Homo sapiens: one gene and its partners. The protein of the gene in region 1 interacts with the protein of each later gene in a pairwise test. Each region holds a gene or a part of one and is shown in the gene's direction. Other genes may lie near its edges.

The links.
Region 2: the proteins of TASOR2 (region 1) and TSEN15 interact in binary tests that used the Homo sapiens proteins (3 or more experiments, as listed by UniProt).
Region 3: the proteins of TASOR2 (region 1) and KLHL40 interact in binary tests that used the Homo sapiens proteins (3 or more experiments, as listed by UniProt).

Annotation. Positions count from the first base shown.
Region 1 is NC_000010.11:5,687,743-5,694,851, forward strand, and holds part of TASOR2 (protein TASOR 2), read left to right. Parts: intron 1-5,055; exon of another isoform or gene 5,056-5,171; coding exon of another isoform or gene 5,172-5,176; intron 5,177-7,109.
Region 2 is NC_000001.11:184,068,730-184,074,712, forward strand, and holds the end of TSEN15 (tRNA-splicing endonuclease subunit Sen15), read left to right. Parts: intron 1-1,886; exon of another isoform or gene 1,887-2,003; intron 2,004-3,427; coding exon 3,428-3,569; coding exon of another isoform or gene 3,570-3,581; intron 3,582-4,097; coding exon 4,098-4,118; coding exon of another isoform or gene 4,119-4,134; 3' UTR 4,135-5,483; downstream 5,484-5,983. UniProt on the Homo sapiens protein: Non-catalytic subunit of the tRNA-splicing endonuclease complex, a complex responsible for identification and cleavage of the splice sites in pre-tRNA. It cleaves pre-tRNA at the 5' and 3' splice sites to release the intron.
Region 3 is NC_000003.12:42,680,733-42,688,536, forward strand, and holds the start of KLHL40 (kelch-like protein 40), read left to right. Parts: upstream 1-4,804; 5' UTR 4,805-4,886; coding exon 4,887-6,038; intron 6,039-7,409; coding exon 7,410-7,570; intron 7,571-7,804. UniProt on the Homo sapiens protein: Substrate-specific adapter of a BCR (BTB-CUL3-RBX1) E3 ubiquitin ligase complex that acts as a key regulator of skeletal muscle development.

The DNA of each region.
Region 1 (7,109 bases):
CTGGGAGACAGGTTGCAGTGAGCCAAGGTTGTGTCACTCTACGGCAGCCTGGGTGACAGAGTGAGACTCCGTCTCAAAAGACTGCTGAAGATCCCAAAGATCTTTTGTTTATTGGATTATATCAATTGATAATTACCGTATTAGATATTAAAACTGATAAATTTGAAATGTATGTTTATTTATTGGTACCTTTAAATATAATAACCCATTACATCTTAACATATTTTATCTCCCCAAAATTAGTGACAAGAATGGGATTTTTGTACATTTTTGCAAATACGCTGAAGGTCTCCTTTAATGACTAGAGTCTCATCTGCTTTTGTATTCATTGTGTTGCCATGTATTATTTTGGTTGAAGTGCATGAAGAAAATCCAGCGTCATTCAGCTGAGTAGTTAGAAAAGAGATGAATATTTTAATAATCTTTTCAGATGATTATGTTCTTTTTTGATACTCATCAAAACCTAACAGTTTTGTGTTTTTGTTTCTGTTTTGTTTTTTAGGACAGTGTCTTGCTCTGTCGCCCAGGCTAGAGTGCAGTGATGTGATCATAGCTCACTACAGCCTCCAACTCCTGGGTTCAAACAATCCTGCCTCAGCCTCCTGAGTAACTAGGGCTACAGGCACACACCACCAGGCCCAGCTAATTTTTAATTTTTTTTTTTTTTTTTTTTTTTTTGTAGAGACAGTATTGCTATGTTGCCCAAGCTAGTCTCGAACTGCTGGCCTCTAGCAGTCCCCCTGCCTCGCCTCTCAAAGCACTGGGACTATAACATCCAGCCCCTAACAATTTGTTAAACGTTAGCTGCAGTGTAGAATTGCAAATCATATGAATGAACTTCTCATGCTCTGACATTAACATTGGCCTACCATGCACTTTCAAGGGCTCTTTTACCTACACATGTGTCATTTGGAAAACATTGGTTCACTGAATTGTGCAGCTCTTTCACATGACACATTTCATTATATAATTTCAGAAAATTGGTTGGGTGCGTGGGCTCATGCGTGTGATGCTAGCACTTTGGGAAGTTGAGCTGGGAGGATTGCTTCAGCCAGGTTTGAGACCAGCCTGGGCAACATAGTGAGACCCCATCTTTACAAAAAAAAAAAAATTAGTGGAGCGTGGTAGCACACACCTGTGTTCCCAGCTACTTGGGAGGCTGAGGTGGGAGGATTGCTTGAGCCCAGAAGGTTGATATTGCAGTGAGCCATCATCATGCCACTGCACACCTTCCTGGGTGACAGAGCAAGACCCTGTCTCCTTTAAAAAGTACAGTTTTTGGAATGGCTTTTATTGAAGATCTATTGATGATGAACACTCAGTTTTTGTTCACCTGAAAATGTCTTTATTTTGCAGCCATTCTTGAATGATGTTTTTGCTGAATACAAAAGTTGGCAATTGTTTTCTTTTAACATGCTGAAGCTCTTATTCCTCTGTCTTTTGGCTTTCATTATTGCTATTGAAAAGTCACCTATCAGTCTATCAATTCATTTTGTTCTGACTGTTTTTTGTGGGTTCTTTTGTTGTTTGTTTTGATCTTTAGCTTTTTGCTGCTTTGCTGTTAACTTGTATGTATTGGCCGGGTGCGGTGGCTCACGCCTGTAATCCCAGCACTTTGGGTGGCCGAGGTGGGCGGATCAAGAGGTCAGGAGTTCAAGACCAGCCTGACCAATATGGTGAAACTCTGTCTCTACTAAAAATACAAAAATTATCCCGGCATGGGGGTGCGCGCCTGTAGTCCCAGCTACTCGGGAGGCTGAGGCAGAAGAATTGCTTGAACTCGGGAGGCAGAGGTTGCAGTGAGCAGAGATCACGCCACTGCACTCCAGCCTGGGCGACAGAGCAAGACTCCATCTCAAAAAAACAAAAAAACAAGCATGTATGTATCTTGCTTGGGATTGTCTTCTTAAATCTGTAAATTGGAGATGTTTTTAAATGTGTTTATTCATAATTTATTAAATGTGATTTCCATTCGTGTTATTTATCTTAATGTATAAATAATTTTTTAAATTATCTACATAGTAAATATTCTCTTCTGGTCTTTTACTCTTCTTTCACTTTGTTTCCCACAGCTTCCCCAACAGACATACATTGCCAAACTTGTGGATTTTTGATAATTTTTGATAAGTTAAAAGTAAAACAGGAAATCTCTGGAACTAGTCTTTTGGAAGAGGGGGTAGAGTTTTTGACTACTCTTTTCATTTTCTTCATCATTATTGGTTTATTTAAATGTTTCTTCCATTTAGACCAATGTTGGTAAATTATATTTTTATAGTTTTCAGATTTATTGATATAAATTATACATGGTGATTTATAATTTTAGAAATATCTTCCTTGTATTTGTGGTTGTATCGTCTTTGCTTTCAATATTTAATTTTTTCCTTTTTACTTATTTATATTTGCTAAAAGATTACCTACTTTATTATTACTCTACAAATAACCAGCTTTTGCTTTTATTGCTTGGCTTAGTTGGCTTTTTTAATTTGCTTTTTAAAATTACTGTTTTTATCATAAGAAATGTATCTGGAGTGTACTTTGTTTTCTCTTAGTAAGATTTTAATTACATTTAATCGGAGAACTAAATCCCTTGCTAATATTTTGTATAAAGATTCACTACCCTCCTTGGCATGGTGAAATAGACCCTGTTTAGAACCTTTCATGTACACCTGCTCCCTCATTAGGAGAAGGAATATTCAAGATCCCAATGCCTGAGGTTTGTCCAGTTGGGGCACCTACTTTACCCTTGTGCATATCCCCTATTTATCTGTGCCCAGGACATTTTGCGTGGGCTACGTGTAGAGGTGGTGGCCATACATAGTTATCTTTATTCTGGCATAAATCAGATGTCACGTTCTCTTTTGCCATATGTAATAATCAAGAGTACCCAAAAGTGGGTCTTGAAATATAATTGTTTCTGAGAGGAACTTATTCTCAGGATATTTTTGTAAGAGGGACAAAACTACTTAACAGTGTGTATCCTTGCAATAAGTATATTAATGAATACGATACAACCATTTTATACAGGCAAAAGATGGTTTAATGCCAAAGCACAAACTCATAAACCCAGTTGATGAGGAGCCAGAACAATGGTCATTACTGTATAGAGATGTTTTAAAAAGTCACCATATAAGCTTTGAAATAATTCTAATGAAAATTATATGACCTTGAGGCTGGGCGCGGTGGCTCATGCCTGTAATCCCAGCACTTTGGGAGGCCGAGGTGGGTGGATCACAAGGTCAGGAGATCGAGACCATCCTGGCCAACATGGTGAAACCCTGTCACTACTAAAATACAAAAAATTAGCCGGGCATGATGGTGCATGCCTGTAGTCCCAGCTTCTTGGGAGGCTGAGGTGGGGGAATCGCTTGAACCTGGGAGGCAGAGATTGCAGCGAGCCGAGATCACGCCACTGCACTCCAGCCTGACGACAGAGTGAGACTCCGTCTCAAAAAAAAAAAAAAAGAAAGTTATATGATCTTGAATATAAAAAGTATGGTCTCTAAAGAATTTGTTGTTGTTTTTACATAATGTAGGAGGAAAAAAATTGTGGTGTTTATAAGCATCAGCCTGATTACCAAAAATACTTTTTGTGGTAGACTGGATTTTGAGAATGTTAAAACAATCTTCAAAAATTGAATATTAAATCCAAAAATAAGCAAGCCACAGCTAAATGAAAAAGTCATAGTACATAGGTGTAATACACTTTACTCAAGGGGTGTAATTCCAAAAAAAAAGTTTTTAAAAAAGGTAATTTGTCTCCTACTGGATATACTAAATACCTTAGTGAATTTTTTATTTTGAATAGCTCTTTGTTAATCTACATAATTGTTTATGAATTTAACTTGCTTTATAAGTTCAAATTATCCTATATGCTATACAACACACTAATGGTAATGATGAATAAGATCTACTAATTAGGCTTTCTTCTGGGCAATGCATGTGGGTATCTTAGATTGCTTAGTTAAAACATAATGAGTAAAGATGTCCTTAGATCAGGCCAAACACTTCATCTTCCCCCTGCACCTCCGTTTGATTAAATTTTTCGTAAATTTTGTTAGGGCTGCATGGCTTATTGGGAAGGGACCTCATCCCTACCCCAGGCATTGGTATCAATTTTCCTGAAGCTATGTGAAGTATTAAAAAACCATATTCAGGCCTGGCATGTTGGCTCACGCCTGTAATCTGAGCATTTAGAGAGACAGAGGCGGGCTGATCAGTTGAGGTCAGGAGTTTGAGACCAGCCAGGTTAACACGGTGAAACGCCTTTACTAAAAATACAAAAATTAGCTAGGCGTGGCGGCCCATACCTGTAATTCCAGCTACTCAGAAGGCTGAGGCAGGGGAATCGCTTGAAACCAGGAGGCAGAGGTTGCAGTGAGCCCAGATTGTGCCACTGCACTCTGTCTCAAAAAAAAAAAAAAAGCCATATTCATTATGACTTTTTAATTTTGTGACATGTATAAATACATTTTTTATTATCTACATAGTAAATTTAAAAAGCTGCATCAAACTGTAGCCGGTGAGGCTGCATAAATGATGTGGGACGAAGAGTTATAATAACTTGAGATCACTGTAGTGAAAAGAACGTGTATTTTAGATTAGACCTGAGATTGATAGATATCCTTACTAGGGGCTTGCGGGTAGGACACTTAAGGAAATTGGAGCTTGGAGTGAGCTTTGTAAAATAATACTAAAACCATCCTCCTAGTGGGGTTACTGTGTGACGTCCAAGAACTCGGGGGCAGTTGGCTTGCTGTCCTGTGCTCCGTTCTGACGACTGAGCCCGCCCAGGTCTGCAGGGTCCTGGGGTCCTGCGGGTTCTGTAGGGTTCCCTGGTGTGTGGAGTCCCTACCCGCTACAAGCTCCGTTGGGTCTACGGAGTGTGCGGGGATCTCCCAGCCCTGTTGGCTGTACGGGCTCAGTGGGGTTTGCAGGGATCCCCTCGTTCTGTGGGGTCCGTGGGCGCCGAGTCAGGGCCATGCCCCTGGGCTCCGCTCGCGGAGCCGGCGTCGCCCTTGTTGACTTTCAAAAGGCGCCGCCGGCCCCGCGCCCTACACGCTCAGCACGCCCTGCGCGGAGTTCCCCGCTCTGGCGCACTGGCCTTGGCTGGCGGGAGGGGGCCGGAGGGGCTGCCGGCGGAGCAGAGACACAGCCACCCTCCCCAACACACCATGAGGTGAGTCGGGGAGGGGCCTAGGTCTCCCACATGCTGTTGTGGGAAGCTCTGACCCCCGCTGTGCCTGGGGCGGGCTCACCCACGGAGGTGACTGTTAATACAGCGCTGAGTGCGAAGGAGACCCGAGAAAATGGGCCTATTCTGTCTAGTAACGTTTTACCTTCTGGTGAGGGTGTGGGGAGAGAAGCTTTGGCAGGGTCAGTGAGGCCCCGCAGCAGAGCCCTGGTGATGAAAGACACTTTTGTATGGTACCCGAAGGCTTAACTTCACTCCTGATTGTGAGTGGATTGTGTGTGGTAGTGGTGGAGCCCTTGCAGAACCGCCAGAGAGACGGTGCTAGTTGTGTGTGTGCCTATGTAAACCTACAATAGCTAAGGTCATCTTTTGAAATGTAGAACAGGGATTGCACATTGACTTTGCGCTTCAAGTATTTGCAGGTTATTACCTTAGTTTTTACTCCCTTTGTGCGTGCCGTGATTATCTTGGTTTAAACTCGTATGTGGCAAGAAATTTTTTAATGAATGTTTAAGTTTCTGTGAAAATTGTGTATTTCTCAAATTGTATTTTTTGGCTTTTAATAGGGTCACTTTGTTTTCTGGGTCTCTGTTTTGACTTACGGGAAATGCTATTTGTTTTCTCTACATTTTCTTCATTTAAAAAAAACCTGTAACTTCAGGAGTTCAAGACCAACCTGGGCAACCTCATCCCTGGAGGAGGGGGGAACCCCCACAAAACCACAACTATAACTGGCTGCTACTTAGGACTACAGGAGATCTTTTTTCCAAAGTGGAAATAGCTTTATTTCACCCAGATTATGTTTATTTAAAATTTCAGATAATATATAAAGCTGTAAAAAGTAAAGCAAAAACTACCTGTACTTGTCCCATCCAAAGATAACTTCATAGAATATTTGATTATCTACTGTGGTGCTAGGAGCTCTGTTGGACCCTGGGGACTTTGGTGAACAGACAATGCCTGCCTCTATAAACCTTACATTCTGCTGGGGAAAATAGACCTCTCCCAACCCACCAAAAAGTAAATTTATAATAATTCCATGTTCTAATGCTTTAAAGAAAACACTTGCAGCAGGGTAATCCGAGGTTTATCTGAGTGGATGACTTAAATAGATGTCACTAAAGGAACAGAAAGAGCTCAACCATGGGAGGAATGGGGAGAAAAAAAAAAGAATTCTGGTCAGAAATAACAGCATGCACAAAGGCCTTAAAAGAGGAAAAAGCTATAAAAAGAAAAATCCATGTAGCTGCCACTCAGTAGTAAGTCAGGGAAAAGTAGAGCAAGATGAGGTATAGGAAATTGGCAGGGACCAAATTTTACTTGTCCATGGCCAGGAGGGTGTGTTTTGTGTTCTGAGGGCAGTGAGAGGGTACTGAGGGGCTTTAATTAGAAATAAAGTGATCTGGAAAACTAATTGATTAATTTGTTAAGTAAATATTTATTGAAACCCTACTGTATAACAGGCACTGTTCTGAGCACTGGCATACAACAATGAAAAGGACAAAGCCCTGTATTCATGAAACTAATCTAGTGGTTGGAGGACAATCAGATAAACAAGAAAAAATACCAGATATTGATAAGTGTGCAGAAGATGACCATTGTTTAAATTGTGGTTTATATTCTTTAAGATATGGTATATTACACATATACTTCTTTTGGAACTTTCTCCTGAATAATTTATGGTAGGACATTTTTCACTGTTACTAAATAGTTTTCTTTGGGGGCATCTTAATTTGTTTTTGGATTAAGTATGGTAAAAAATAGCATGCATAAATGAAGAAATACTGTGCAGCAACAAAAATTTGCATGTTACAAAGCATCTGGTGAACGTTATATAGTAACTTCCTTTTGACAGTCTGACATGTGGCTCTCCTACCCCCATCCCAGACCCCAGCTGCCCCTTTGTGGTTTTTTATTT
Region 2 (5,983 bases), on another chromosome or scaffold:
TGACACCAACTTAATTTTGCATTATGTTTCAGAGTTGCATTATGGCATGTCATTCCATTATATCATAATGAGGCAAATCAAGGAATTATTCCCTTTTACTAATAAGGCTATAGCATATATTATTTGGCCACATTGAAGAGGATAGGAGATACTTTCTATGGGTTGAAATTAATACTACTTTTAACCCATGATACATTCTATTTCAATAGCATTTGAAGTTAAAAGTAATGCGGTCTTCAACTTCTTGTCCTCTGTGTAAATCTCCAGAGATTACTTAGTATCTGTTTCAGAATCATTACAGAAAAATCAATGCTAAGATTTATGGAAAGCATTTAAATAGCTTGGACTAAAGGTATTAGCCAAATAGTGTTAACTGTGTATTTGCTTCAGGCTTGTTTTCAAGTTAGCTATATGAAGCTCTGGAATCACTTTTTTTCAGTACACAGAGCTCCTCTATGAACAGTTATGAGAAATAAAAACCTGTTGTGAGCATCAAATTTTGTTGCTGTTATTAAATAGCTATTATTATTGATACATATTTTTCTTTAGGTGGGATTTTTCCCTTTAGATATAACTGAGTTTAAAACTTGAAACTGTTAGTATTAATACATAGGTTATATTTTTCATAGGTTGATTTCTATCCAATATGAACTATAAAGAATTTTATCGTTTATTGTTGTAGATTTGTGTGATGAAACATACAATATTTCCAGTATCTTCACAATATTTTTCCAAAGAACTGAGCTATTAAAATTTATACATATAAGGAAACATTCTGTCATTTCTAAAGTGAGATTTCAAACCATAAGCTTGTTAGAAATTAAGTGAGATTATAGTATTCTGGTGATACTTAAATGTTCTTGGGATCTTTACAATCATATGTGGTTTTTTAAGAACTTAAGAATCTTTTGTTACTGCTATTATTAATAGATTGGGAAAATATAATCTGTTGACTAAAAGGCAAAATAAACATTTTTAAGATTTTATGCAGTATCCTATAATGGAAACAAACAAGAAAGGTCTTGTTCTTGTTTGTTGAGGAAAAGATGATGGCTTTGCTTTAAACATACTTGAAAAATCGACTAGAAGAGATCCTGAACAAGAAACTGTAAGACTTCTGGAATGTACCTTGAGTAACAGAGGCAGATAAACTATTTTATTCTGTTACTAGTGAGAAGATTCACTGGTAATTCACAATCACCGCCCCCTCCAACCAAATACCATAAACAAGGCCTCAGAAATGGGAACTTCCATTTCATTTTTGACAGTGATTTCTCTCAACTCTGAAAACAAAACCCCTTTTACAACTCTGAGTTAGTTTTCAAATGTTAGGGTTTCCTGCATGGGTATTTGGGGTAAGTATGAAAATGTTTTGCTGCTTAAATCAAAGAACTCTGGAAACAGATATAAATTGAGAATGGAAAAAGAGTAGTGAATAAGATGGAAATTTCTATTCTAAATTTCACTATATGGGCTACAATTCCCATATAGTTTTCCTTAGTGAACACCACCCCCCAACACACACATACAAACACACCTTCTGATTTAAATAACATTATATCTTCAGAAATGGAAAATGTGTTAAAGTTGTGTTAACAGGCTTCCTTCTTGTCTGTGTCCCATTCTCATCACAGTCTACCAGTTAGGGATGTTTAGAGAAATTTATCTTGTGGCATTGAAGTGGCTTTATGTGCATTATATATTGGGTTTTATGTATATTGCATACTGTGAAGTAATCATGATACATGCTGACAACAAAAGATGTAGATAAGTTAAAATTTTAGTTGATCCATTGTCTGTTTCTTCTTTGCCATCTTTGTAGAAAAAAATTAATTCAAGATGGACAGCCTATAAAAATGTATCTTTTTCTATTATTATTAATTTAGATATTGGCGTGCCACTTTTGAAGAAGGAAAATACTTAGCTACATTAAAAGATTTGCATTGAAGAAGCAATTGTGATATGCTGCCTTTTATCACAGTGTGACTTCCCATCAGTGCTGAGTAATGAAGTTTCTGATTAATATCTATCGTTGCTTTATCAGAATATCTTTCTCTAAAGTAAATCATTCTTGTGAATAAGAATCTAGCTAGTTGTAATGCAGTTCAGCATAGGTGGAAATAATTTTTTAAGGACTAAGTCAATTTCTGGGATTCAGACTGTTTCAGAAAAGAAACATTTTCTGTATTTCCACTAATGGCACAGTGTACCTTAGTATGTTTGGGTTAGTATTCAGTTTTAGCAATAATCATGGAGGCAGGGGTATCTATAAATATTATATCCCAATTTGCAAGGTAGCAAAGTTGTATATATACTACATAATATGACCACTTGACAGTTTATGAAGTCTTTTCATATATGCCATTTAATTGATTCATATAATAATCTTATGTGTAAACATAAAGGTGTACTACTATCTTCATTTCAAGTATCCTTGAAAAGACTTTCTCCATTGAATTGCCTTTGTACCTTTGTCAAAAATCAACTGACCAGCCTTATAGCACGTTAAGAAGTAACTTATATGATGTTATTAACACAAAGGATGGGGGAAGGAATGAAGCTATATTGGAGTAAACAATGACACCAGACAGTTATGTGAAGAAATGAAGAATACCAGGAATATTAAATATGTGAATGTAAAAGACCCTAATATATTTTCCTTTCTCCTCTTAACTTTATAAAAAGAAAATTATTTAAAGTAATAATTACAACACTATATTACTGGGTTTAAATATATAAACATATATGACAATAATAGCATAAAGGTGGAGGAAAGGAATAAAGCTCTATTGGAGCAATTTCTATATTTTTTAGAATCAAGTTAGTATTAAGCTGAGAGAAATTGTGATAAACTAAGACGCAATAGTAATCTCTAGAGTCATCACTACGAAACTCAAGAAACTATAGTAAAAAAAAATACATTAATTAAAATGGTGTACTAGAAAATACCTATTTAATAGAAAAGAAGGTGATAAAGGAGGGTGAGAGGAAGTAAAAAGACATGTGATATATAGAAAACAAATAGCTAAATGGCAGGCATGAATCCAACCATACCAATGTTAATTTTAAATTTGAATAAACACTCAAAAGGGCAGAGATTGTCAGATTGGATATAAAAACAAGATCCAACTATATGCTATCTACAAAAGATACACTTCAGATTCAGAGACAACAATTTTGGAAAACTGTCAACTATTTCTATACCATTCTCTTTCCTTTCCTTCTGTGATTCCAATTATGTGTAATGTTGAACTTATTTGATACTATACCAGAAGACTCTGATGTTATTTTTTAAAATTATTTTTTCTCTTTTTACTTCAGTTTGGTTTCTTGTGACCTGTTTTCAAGTTTTCTAGTGCTTTCTTCTGTCACATCTCATCTAATTGAGTGACCGCAACTCCTAAGTATATTGTGACTTTATTTTCAGGATAAGGGAGATCTTGAAGGCATCTCGAAAGTTGCAAGGTGATCCAGATTTGCCGATGTCTTTTACTTTGGCCATAGTGGAGTCTGATTCTACAATAGTCTATTATAAACTTACTGATGGATTTATGCTGCCAGACCCTCAGGTCAGTTTTGAGGTAACTGACAGCAAGAAGTACAAAAAGAGGAAAATTATGACGTGATTTTAAGTGTGACTCAAGTCAGTCACAGAACTGCCACTTCCTTTGCCATAGGGAAAATTCAAGAAAAAAAGTCTTGATTTTCAGACGTCAGAAAATTGGTTATATTTTGTTCAAAGTAGCATGTTCCTAGTTATTTTTGCAAAAAAAAAATTGATTTCCTTACTCTTTGGAGAATTTCATGGTTTTCCAAAGTATTTTATGAAGTCATCATGCATTTAATTATTTAGTGAGTAGCTGAGGTGGAATGTAAAGGCTAATAATAGTTGTAAGTAAAAAAACGCTTATTTAAGAAATGTTAAATTGGTTGACATTTTGACAGGAACATTTTAATAAGATAAATGTGCTATATGTGATTTCTTTACATACTTTGTTGGTATAATTTGGATAATTACATTAAATATCTTTCTAATTTTGCTTTTGGATTACATTGTTTATCGGAGAAAAGTCCATCCTGATCTTTTTTTTTTCCAGAATATTTCTCTTAGAAGATGACATCCATGTTTCCTGATGCTTGTTTTATTCATACAAGATTGGATTTGAGACCCATCAGACTGCTTCATCTTTTATCTCAGAAATAGGGTTGACGTACATAGTGAGGGTTGACTTCCCCATTCCATAAGGTTTTCATTCTGAAGAGTAAAACTTCCCCAGGTAGAAGACTTTCTCCTTCTTAAAAAATATAGGGTGATTTCTTTAAAACTTTGTTATCTAGAGACAGTTTAATTACAGTTATATACAGGTTTATGCCTAGGATGTATTCAGATGGGTGGGACCTGTGTGCTGCTTTTGTCATCCCACACTCAAAGTTGTCTCTTTGTTTCTTGCTGCCACTGCCAGCTCATTGTTGAGACTGCCATTTCTTTCTCTTACTCAGCTCTCCCCAGTGCCTTTTGGCCACTGCAGCTACCGTAGAATGGCATTTTATATGTACCTTGTCACCCACTTCTGTTTACTTTTTCCTCTCCAGTAAAAAGTAAAAGATTTCTTTCAATTGGTCTTCCCATTGCAGTTACTGTTATTTCTCTTTTTTGGTTAACTTTAAATCAAAACTCAAAATATGTTCATCCAGAGTGTGTCTTAAGTAACTTACGTGTCTTAAGTAACAGGGACCAGAGACATGTTACCTACAAGAGTTCTGGGCTATCCTTTTCATTCTTATCACATATCATAGCTTGAATATTACAACAGTGTGGGAGAGAATCAACCGTAAAAATGTCTTCATTAATTAGACCCAGTTATTCCACTTTTGTTAATGTCTCTCAAATTGTACAAAGTATAAAAAATTATATGCACAAAGATGTTCCAAGTGACATTACTTTTAGTAGCCCAAATTATAAACCACTTTAAAGTTTGGGGTAAAGATTGGCAAACTTTTTCTATAAAGGGCCAGAAAGTAACTATTTTAGGTTTTTAAACCTACTGTCTCTGTCATAACTTGTCAACACTGCTGTATGAAGCACAAAAGCAGCCATAGACAATACATAAACAATACGGGCGTGGCTTTGTTCCAGTAAAACTTTGTTTACAAATGTGGTGCCATAGTTTGTCATCCCTGGGTCTAGGAAATAGTCAATAAACAGATATATACAAATGATACATAATGTACTTATTAAAAATTAGTAATGAATATTATTAAAAACATGAAAATATTACCTTAAGTAAAAATTGCAAGACGGAAAAGTGTATAAGTGGGTGTAATCATGGCTGAAATAACAGACCAAGCATATGATAAAAAGATAACAAAGTAAATCAAATTACTAACTGGTTATAGTGGGATAGGAGGCAGAAAATGGATGACTTTGTCTTTTCTCAATGTTTTTATTTGTATTTTATAATAAAAATGTTTTAAAATTAAAAGGTGTCTTGAAATCTGTATTAGTTATCTATCATTGCAAAATAATATTACCACAAATGTAGCAACTTAAAACAGCACACATTTATTATCTTATAGTTTTTGTGGGCAAGGGACCCGGGCACAGATTAGTTGGGTCCTCCATGAGGCTACAGTCAAGGTGTTGGGCAGGGCTCCAGTCTCATCTGAGACTTGACTGGGGAAGGGTCAGCTTTTTCACCCACATGGTTATTAGTAGCCTTCAATTTCTTGAGAGTGCTCAATGCTTATATGCCATTGGCAGGAGGCCACCCTCAGCTCTTTGCCACGTGGGCCTTCTCAATATAACTGGTTGCTTCCTCAAAGCCAGCAAAGGAGAGTCTCAGCAAGATGGACCTTATAATCCTTATATAATGTAATCACATACATCCCATCACCTTTGCCGTATTCTGTTGATTGGAAGCAGGTCATAGGTCCTGCCTACACACTAGGGTTTCATGGCTGATTAGGAAACAACAATAACAAG
Region 3 (7,804 bases), on another chromosome or scaffold:
TCTGGGCTGCCTGTTTTTGGATCCTTTTATGTAATGTAAGAGCATTTCCAGCATCTCAACTTCTTGCATCATAGGCCACCTTTAACCCAGAAGTCAGTGAAGAAGCAAGCAGGCCATTAGAAATTCTCTCGACTTCTCAAGCTCACCCTTGAGCACCTGTTGCTGGTATACTCCTGAAATGATTTTCAACATCACACAGCCCTCTTAGCAGTAGATCACAGAATCTTCACTGGCTAGTGTGGTATCAGACAGATTACAGAAACTTCAGGAATGCTCGAGTCAGGATTGCAGGATACATAGCCCAGACAATGGCCAAACCACAGCCAGTAGGGACAGATCCCTCAGCTTGTATGGTGGACAGTGGAAAGTAGACTCCAGAAGTTCCAACACTGCTGTCCATCAGCCCTTCGCCAAAATATGGATGCTGCAGGTTCCTGCTTCCTGTTCCAAACTGAAGTTTTGGGATGGGCGCATACAATGGGTTGAGCTCAGTGGCATGTCTGTGTTCCTGGGGAAGCTGGGAAAATAAATTCTGGTTTCTACCACAGGGAAGAAGGACTACTTATGTGGGAACTGTCCAAAACATAGGAAGACTATTTAGGAGATGCAGGAAGGCCACCAAGTGTGACAAATATCTGCCACCCAAATATCCTGAGTTCAAGCAATTCTCCTGTCTCAGCCTCCCGAGTAGCTGGGACTATAGGCACACGCCACCATACCCAGCTAATTTTTGTATTTTAGTAGGCACGGGGTTTCACCATATTGATCAGGCTGGTCTCGAACTCCTGACCTCAGGTGATCCACCCACTGCCCTGGCCTCCCAAAGTGTTAGGATTACAGGCGTGAGCCACTGCGCCCGGCCCCATTTTGTGTTTCTCTTAAATGACCCTGTGATATACTAAGATTCCTAATGAAGGCAGAAGCTATCAGTTAAAAATATGAGTAGACAACCTGGATGAAGCTTAAAATAATTATACTAAGTGAACGATGTCAGACAAAAAAAGTACATACTGTATGATTCCTCTTACATAAAACTTTAGGAAATGCAAATGAATTATAGTGACAGAAAGCAGATCAGTGATTGGGCTGGGGTGTGTGGGAAGAGATGGAGGAGAGATTTTAAAAGGGGATGAGGAATAGTTCGTGGGTGACAGATGTGCTCCCTGTCTTGATTGTGGTGGTGGTGGTTTCACGGATGTGTATACATATGTCAAAACTTATCCAATTGTACACTTTAAATATGTGCAGTTTATCACATGCCACTTATGCCTCATTAAAGTTATTTTCAAAATATTAGACTGCTTCCTATTTGCTGGCCATCTAAATTTCAATTTCTGTAAAATGGGAAAAATAATACCTACCTTATAATTTTGGTGTGAAGATTAAATGAGTAAAAATTAAAAGGATGAAATGAGATGACATCTTCCCTTGGATTCCACTAAAAGTCTTGGAGTCACCCTTTCTCCCCTCTTTTTCTACACCCACATGCAACCTCTGGGTTGATTAGAGTGGGTGGAGATAGAGATGAAACAGGGTTGGCCGTGACTTGAAGACTTGACAGTTACTGAAGTGGGGAGATGGGTACATGAGAGGTCAGAATATGATCCTCTCTACTTTTGTATGTATTTGTATTTTCCACAATAATAATTTAAAAATAAACAGTGAGGCTGGGCATGGTGGCTCACACTTGTAATCCCAACACTTTGGGAGGCCAAGGTGGGAGGATCATTTAAGGCCCGGAGTTTGAGACCAGGCTGGGCAAAATAGTGAGATTCCATCTCCACAAAAATTTTAAAAATTAGCTGGGTGTGGTGGTAGGTGCCTGTAGTCCCAGCCACTCAGGAGACTGAGGTAGAAGGATCATTTGAGCCCAGGAGATCCAGGCTGCAGTGAATTGTGATCACACCACTGCACTCCAGGCTGGGCAACAGAGCGAGACCCTGCCTCAAAAAAATAAAAATAAAAAATAAAACACAGTGTTTCCCGGTTTCAACTCAGAGGAAAACCCAAGTCCTGATGCTGGCCCACGGGGGTCAGCATGATCCCCTACCCTAACCTCTCCCCTTACCTCCTCCTACTCACCTCCTCGTTCACTGCTCCAGCCCTATTGGCCTCCGTGCTGTTTTGGGAACGTGCCAGGCACTCTCTTGCCTCAGGACCTTTGCTCCAGCTGTTCCCCCACTGGGAATCCTCCACGGTTTGACCCCTCTCAAATGTGATCCTCTCGGTGAGTCCATCCTGACTACTCCATTTAAAATCGTTACCACCTCCTCCTCCCACTTCCCATGCGCCTTCCGTTTCACTTGTCTCCACAGCCATAACCATCATCTGATGCCCCGTATAACTATTTATTTATTTCTGTCTCCCCTACCAACCTTGCCCCGACCTCCTGACGAATGTAAGCTCCATGAAGACCGGAATTCCTGCCTGATTTGCTCACTGCTGACTCTTCAGCATTTAAAGCAGTGCACAGGTTCTTGATGAATGAATGAGCCACATACACATGTTCTACTTGAATGCCTGGTAGGCAGTGAGCACTATGGGATCCATCATAATCTAAAAATATTTCATTAAGTCATTTGATAAATCTAAGTAAATTGTTCAGTCAGTATCTTCTGGCCTGGTCTTTGAAAATGAGACTACGATTGATGAACGTTTTTGTTAATTCACGAGAGGCAGCAAGGTAGGGAAGGGTTCCCACAGTCTTTGTAAGAGGGCAGATCTGCTTCAAATCCTGGCGCAGCCCATGTCCGCTGTGTGACTTGGCCAAGGTGCCTAGCCTCTCAAGCCTCGTCTCCTCACTGGCTGTGCTTGCTAGCAATGCCCTGCAGTCCAGGGCTGGGCTGGAAGCTCACCACCTGCCCTCCCTGAGTGAGCCCTTGCCTTTTCAGCAAGAGGGACAGGACCACCTCCAGAGCTTGCTCAGGTGCTGTGTCCCTCTGGGACCTGCTGGTGGGGTGAGCAAGTGATGATCAGATGCACCATTTAAAAGGGACAGAGGCCAGGCGCGGTGGCTCACGCCTGTAATCCCAGCACTTTGGGAGGCCGAGGCGGGCGGATCACCTGAGGTCGGAAGTTTAAGACCAGCCTGGCCAACATGGTGAAACCTCGTCTCTACTAAAAATCCAAAAAAAAAAAAAAAAAAAAAAAATTAGCCGGGAGTGGTGGTCAGCGCCTGTAATCCTAGCTACTAGGAAGGCTTAGGCAGGAGAATTGCTTGAACCCTGGAGGCGGAGGTTGCAGTGAGCTGAGATTGCGCCATTGCACTCCAGCCTGAGCAACAAGAGCGAAACTCCGTCTAAAAACAAAAGGGACAGAGAGTGATATTGCTGAGATCACAAAAGGGAGGTGACTCAGTCCTAGCCCAGCCTGCTGTCATCTCTCCTATACCCACCCCCTCCCCCACTCCCCCGCCTGACGTTATAAACAAGTGACTCAGAGGAATGATGGGGGTGTGTCTCATAATAGTTCATTCCAATGTCCTGGGGGCTAAATTTAACACACAGCTGCAGCCTCTGGCACTTTGGGAACAAGTTAATCTTGGTGACTGAGGCTGATGTGTGTGTGTGTGTGTGTGTGTGTGTGTCTGGTGGTGGGGCGGGGTGGGGAGGGTGTGGGGAGGGGTGTCAGTAGTCTAGAACAAGGTAGGCATCAAGACTGGCTGTCCTGGGCTTCAACCCTGGTCCCTCAGACCATAGACAAGGTGCAGGGGCCCCATGGCCAGGCAGTCTCAGGTCTGGCCTAATATGCACCAAGAATAGTGAGTATAGATAGCTAAAGTCCTGAAATATTAAACTTGTAGTGTTACTTTTTGAACACTAGAATTCAGAATGTCACTCCCTAGAATGTTAAAACCCCGGGGGTTTAAAAACCTAGAATAGTAGAATCCTAAGAAATTAATTTGCTAGCACATCTGACACCTTAGAAGTGTTAAAACTAATAGTGTACTCCCAGGACACAGTACCTTGGTGCTTCTAAACTTCCAGCAGAGTTGAACTGAGGTCCTTAGCATCTAACTTTGCCACCTCCTCATTGTGTAGGAAGGGAAACTGTGGCTTAACAGAGCGACATGCCCTGCCCCAGGCCTCATAGGAAAGTGGCAACCTTGTTTACCTAAGGTACCTTCTTGCTTTCTTGCAAGGAGGAGGGACAGAAAGAGGAAAAGCTCTTCCCATTTTAAAGGTGAGGCAACGGGGGTGGTGTCTTATGTCTGTAATCTCAGCTACGAGGGAGGCTGAGGCAGAAGAATGGCTTGATCCCAGGAGTTCAAGTCCAGGCTGGACAACATAGTGAGACCCTGCCTCTTAAAATAAAGGCAGGGCAACAGGGCCGCCAAAAAGTGAACACCATGTCCAACTTCTGACCAGAAAACCCAAGCACCCTGTATCCAGGGGTAGCTGGAGTGAGACATATTCCGGGGGGGAAGATGGAGGCACCAGGACAGAAGTTCCCAGAAAGCATGAAGGAAGGGAGACCCTGGAAGAGAGGCTCCAGTGCTTTCCCGTCTCTGGACTGAGGGTCAGAGCTTAGGCCACCTTCTCCCCTAGGGGCATCTCCTGACCAAAGAATCCAGAGTCAAGACCTCTCCGTGCTCCATTTAGAAATGAGGCAGCCAGGCCCTCATCTTTCAGAAGGGCCCAGACACCCCACCCCCGTCCCATAAGCCCCCGGGGCTGAGTCAAGTCTTTCTCTGGGAGGGGGCCTCTGCCCAGCTGTCCCCTGTGCGTCATGTGCAGGAGGCCAGGCGGCTCGCCTTACAGGGACCCGGCCACCTCTATATATAGCCCCTCGAAGACAGCTGCTCAGTCTAAGCAAACCCCAGCAGGAAAGCAGGGGTACAGAGAGGAGCCCCCTTGGCACCGCCACCGCACCCTAGGCCACCCACCATGGCGCTGGGCTTGGAGCAGGCGGAGGAGCAGCGGTTGTACCAGCAGACGCTCCTGCAAGACGGGCTCAAAGACATGCTGGACCATGGCAAGTTCCTCGACTGTGTGGTGCGGGCGGGCGAGCGCGAGTTCCCGTGCCATCGCCTGGTGCTGGCCGCCTGCAGCCCCTACTTCCGGGCGCGCTTTCTAGCCGAGCCGGAGCGCGCGGGCGAGCTGCACCTGGAGGAGGTGTCCCCGGACGTGGTGGCCCAGGTGCTGCACTACCTGTACACATCAGAGATCGCGCTGGATGAGGCGAGCGTGCAGGATTTGTTCGCCGCGGCACACCGCTTCCAGATCCCTTCCATCTTCACCATCTGCGTGTCCTTCCTGCAGAAGCGCCTGTGCCTCTCCAACTGCTTGGCCGTCTTCCGTCTCGGCCTCCTGCTCGACTGCGCGCGTCTCGCCGTGGCTGCCCGCGACTTCATCTGCGCTCACTTCACGCTGGTGGCGCGCGACGCTGACTTCCTCGGACTCTCGGCCGACGAGCTCATCGCCATCATCTCCAGCGACGGCCTTAACGTGGAGAAGGAGGAGGCAGTGTTCGAGGCGGTGATGCGGTGGGCGGGTAGCGGCGACGCCGAGGCGCAGGCTGAGCGCCAGCGCGCGCTGCCCACCGTCTTCGAGAGCGTGCGCTGCCGCTTGCTGCCGCGCGCCTTTCTGGAAAGCCGCGTGGAGCGCCACCCTCTCGTGCGTGCCCAGCCCGAGTTGCTGCGCAAGGTGCAGATGGTGAAGGATGCACACGAGGGCCGCATCACCACGCTGCGGAAGAAAAAGAAGGGGAAGGATGGAGCCGGGGCCAAGGAGGCTGATAAGGGCACAAGCAAAGCCAAAGCAGAGGAGGATGAGGAGGCCGAACGTATCCTTCCTGGGATCCTCAATGACACCCTGCGCTTCGGCATGTTCCTGCAGGATCTCATCTTCATGATCAGTGAGGAGGGCGCTGTGGCCTACGATCCAGCAGCCAACGAGTGCTACTGTGCTTCCCTCTCCAACCAGGTCCCCAAGAACCACGTCAGCCTGGTTACCAAGGAGAACCAGGTCTTCGTGGCTGGAGGCCTCTTCTACAACGAAGACAACAAAGAGGACCCCATGAGCGCATACTTCCTGCAGGTGCCTGACCAGCCTTGGGAGCCGCCAGCTAATGCTGGGCTCTAGGCACTGTGGACAGTCTTGGGGCCCAGAAGGGGCTTGTGTCTACACAAGTGAATGCCACTGGGTCTAGGGTGAGATGTAGACTGGGGAGGTTGACTGATAGCCACCTACTTGAAGGTTGAAGACAGTCAATAGGCAGCTGCCAAAAAGCAGCATAACTTTGGTATCTTAATTTCAGGGGTGTGGTAGCCCCAAGTTGGCATATGTTGGAGGCCCTGGCCCTGCACAGGGGTTGGGGTGGGGCACAGTAAGGAGCAGCAAGGTCGGTGTGAGGATCCTGGGCAGGGCCTCTGCGTGAAGGCCAGGCCCGGAGCTCACAGCAGTGTCCCAGACAAAGGAACAATCCTGTATGGTCCTCCCATTGTACAGATGAGGAAACTGAGGCCCAGGAGGTATCAGCAGAGTGGAGTGCCAGGTCTGAGTTGGGGTGTGACTGTGAGATCTCAAAGGGCAGAGACAGTTTCCTGGAGACTGGCCATATAAGTTTGAGCCTTGCCAGTGGGGTGGGATTTGGAGATGTGAAGGGGAAGATGGCAGTGTTTCCGGCCAAGGAACGGTAAGCAAGGGATAGAACTGGGGCTGAGCCTGGTGAGTGGTGTGCTCAGGGAGGCCTGATCAGCAAGAGGGGTGACAGGCGCTTGGTGCCAGGGTTAAGCTCACAGGCCTTACGGTTGCACTGGGGGATGAGGGCAGCTTCACCAGCTACTAGCTCAGCAGTGTGGGCACATTGTTTATTCTCTCTGGGCCTCTGTTTGTAACTGGGGATATTCTCCTTCCTGCATGATAAGGTTGTTGGAAGGTTAAATGATGCTTATAAAGTGCTCATCAGCAAGGTGCTCAGCCCTCAGAAAACTTTCCAAAAAGATGAACCCCTAGTATTAATATCTTAATTATAAAGCTGTGGAGGTGGACAAGGCTGTGGACTGTAGATTTTACAGGGCGAAAAGGCAGGGCCGTATTTGGAAGTTTCCTGAACAGTGGGATGGGGTGGAGAGGAGGGGGCAGGCAGGCCTCAGTTGGGAGTTGTTCAGCCTGGGAAAGCAAGGCCATAGCTGGACCTCCCTCACAGAGCTCCCCCTCATTTCTGTGCTGTGGTGCCCTACCGCCTGCTATAATGGTGGTTGCCAGGAGCCTGCCTGGGTGTGGGGGACGCTCATCTGCTCTCAGCCTGATGGTAGGAGGGGCACTGTTTCTCAGGGCACCTCCAGGCTGTATTGGCCCTACCTGGGTTCCCGACCTCCTCCGTGATCTGGGGCAGTGGGACTGAGTGGGGCTGGGCTGAGGCTGGGGGAGTGGGGGGCGGTAGCTGACTGGACACCTGGCCTGCAGTTTGACCATCTGGACTCAGAGTGGCTGGGGATGCCACCGCTGCCCTCGCCCCGCTGCCTCTTTGGCCTGGGAGAAGCTCTCAACTCCATCTACGTGGTCGGTGGCAGAGAGATCAAGGACGGCGAGCGCTGCCTGGACTCGGTCATGTGCTACGACAGGCTGTGAGCATGGCTGGGGTGGGGCTGAGCTCCGTGGGGGTGAGTGGGGCATGGAGGCCGCAGCTGGTCTAGGGCCTGGGGTGGGATTTGGAGCTAGAGCCTTGTGCTTAGAGTGAAGGTGGGCTTGGGTAAGGGCGGGGAGGTTGGGGGGCAGGGTGGGATCAAAGAACTGAGAGGCCTCGGAAGTTCCAGCAATGGATCTGACGCATCTCGAATATGTGTTAGGTGGATGGGCGG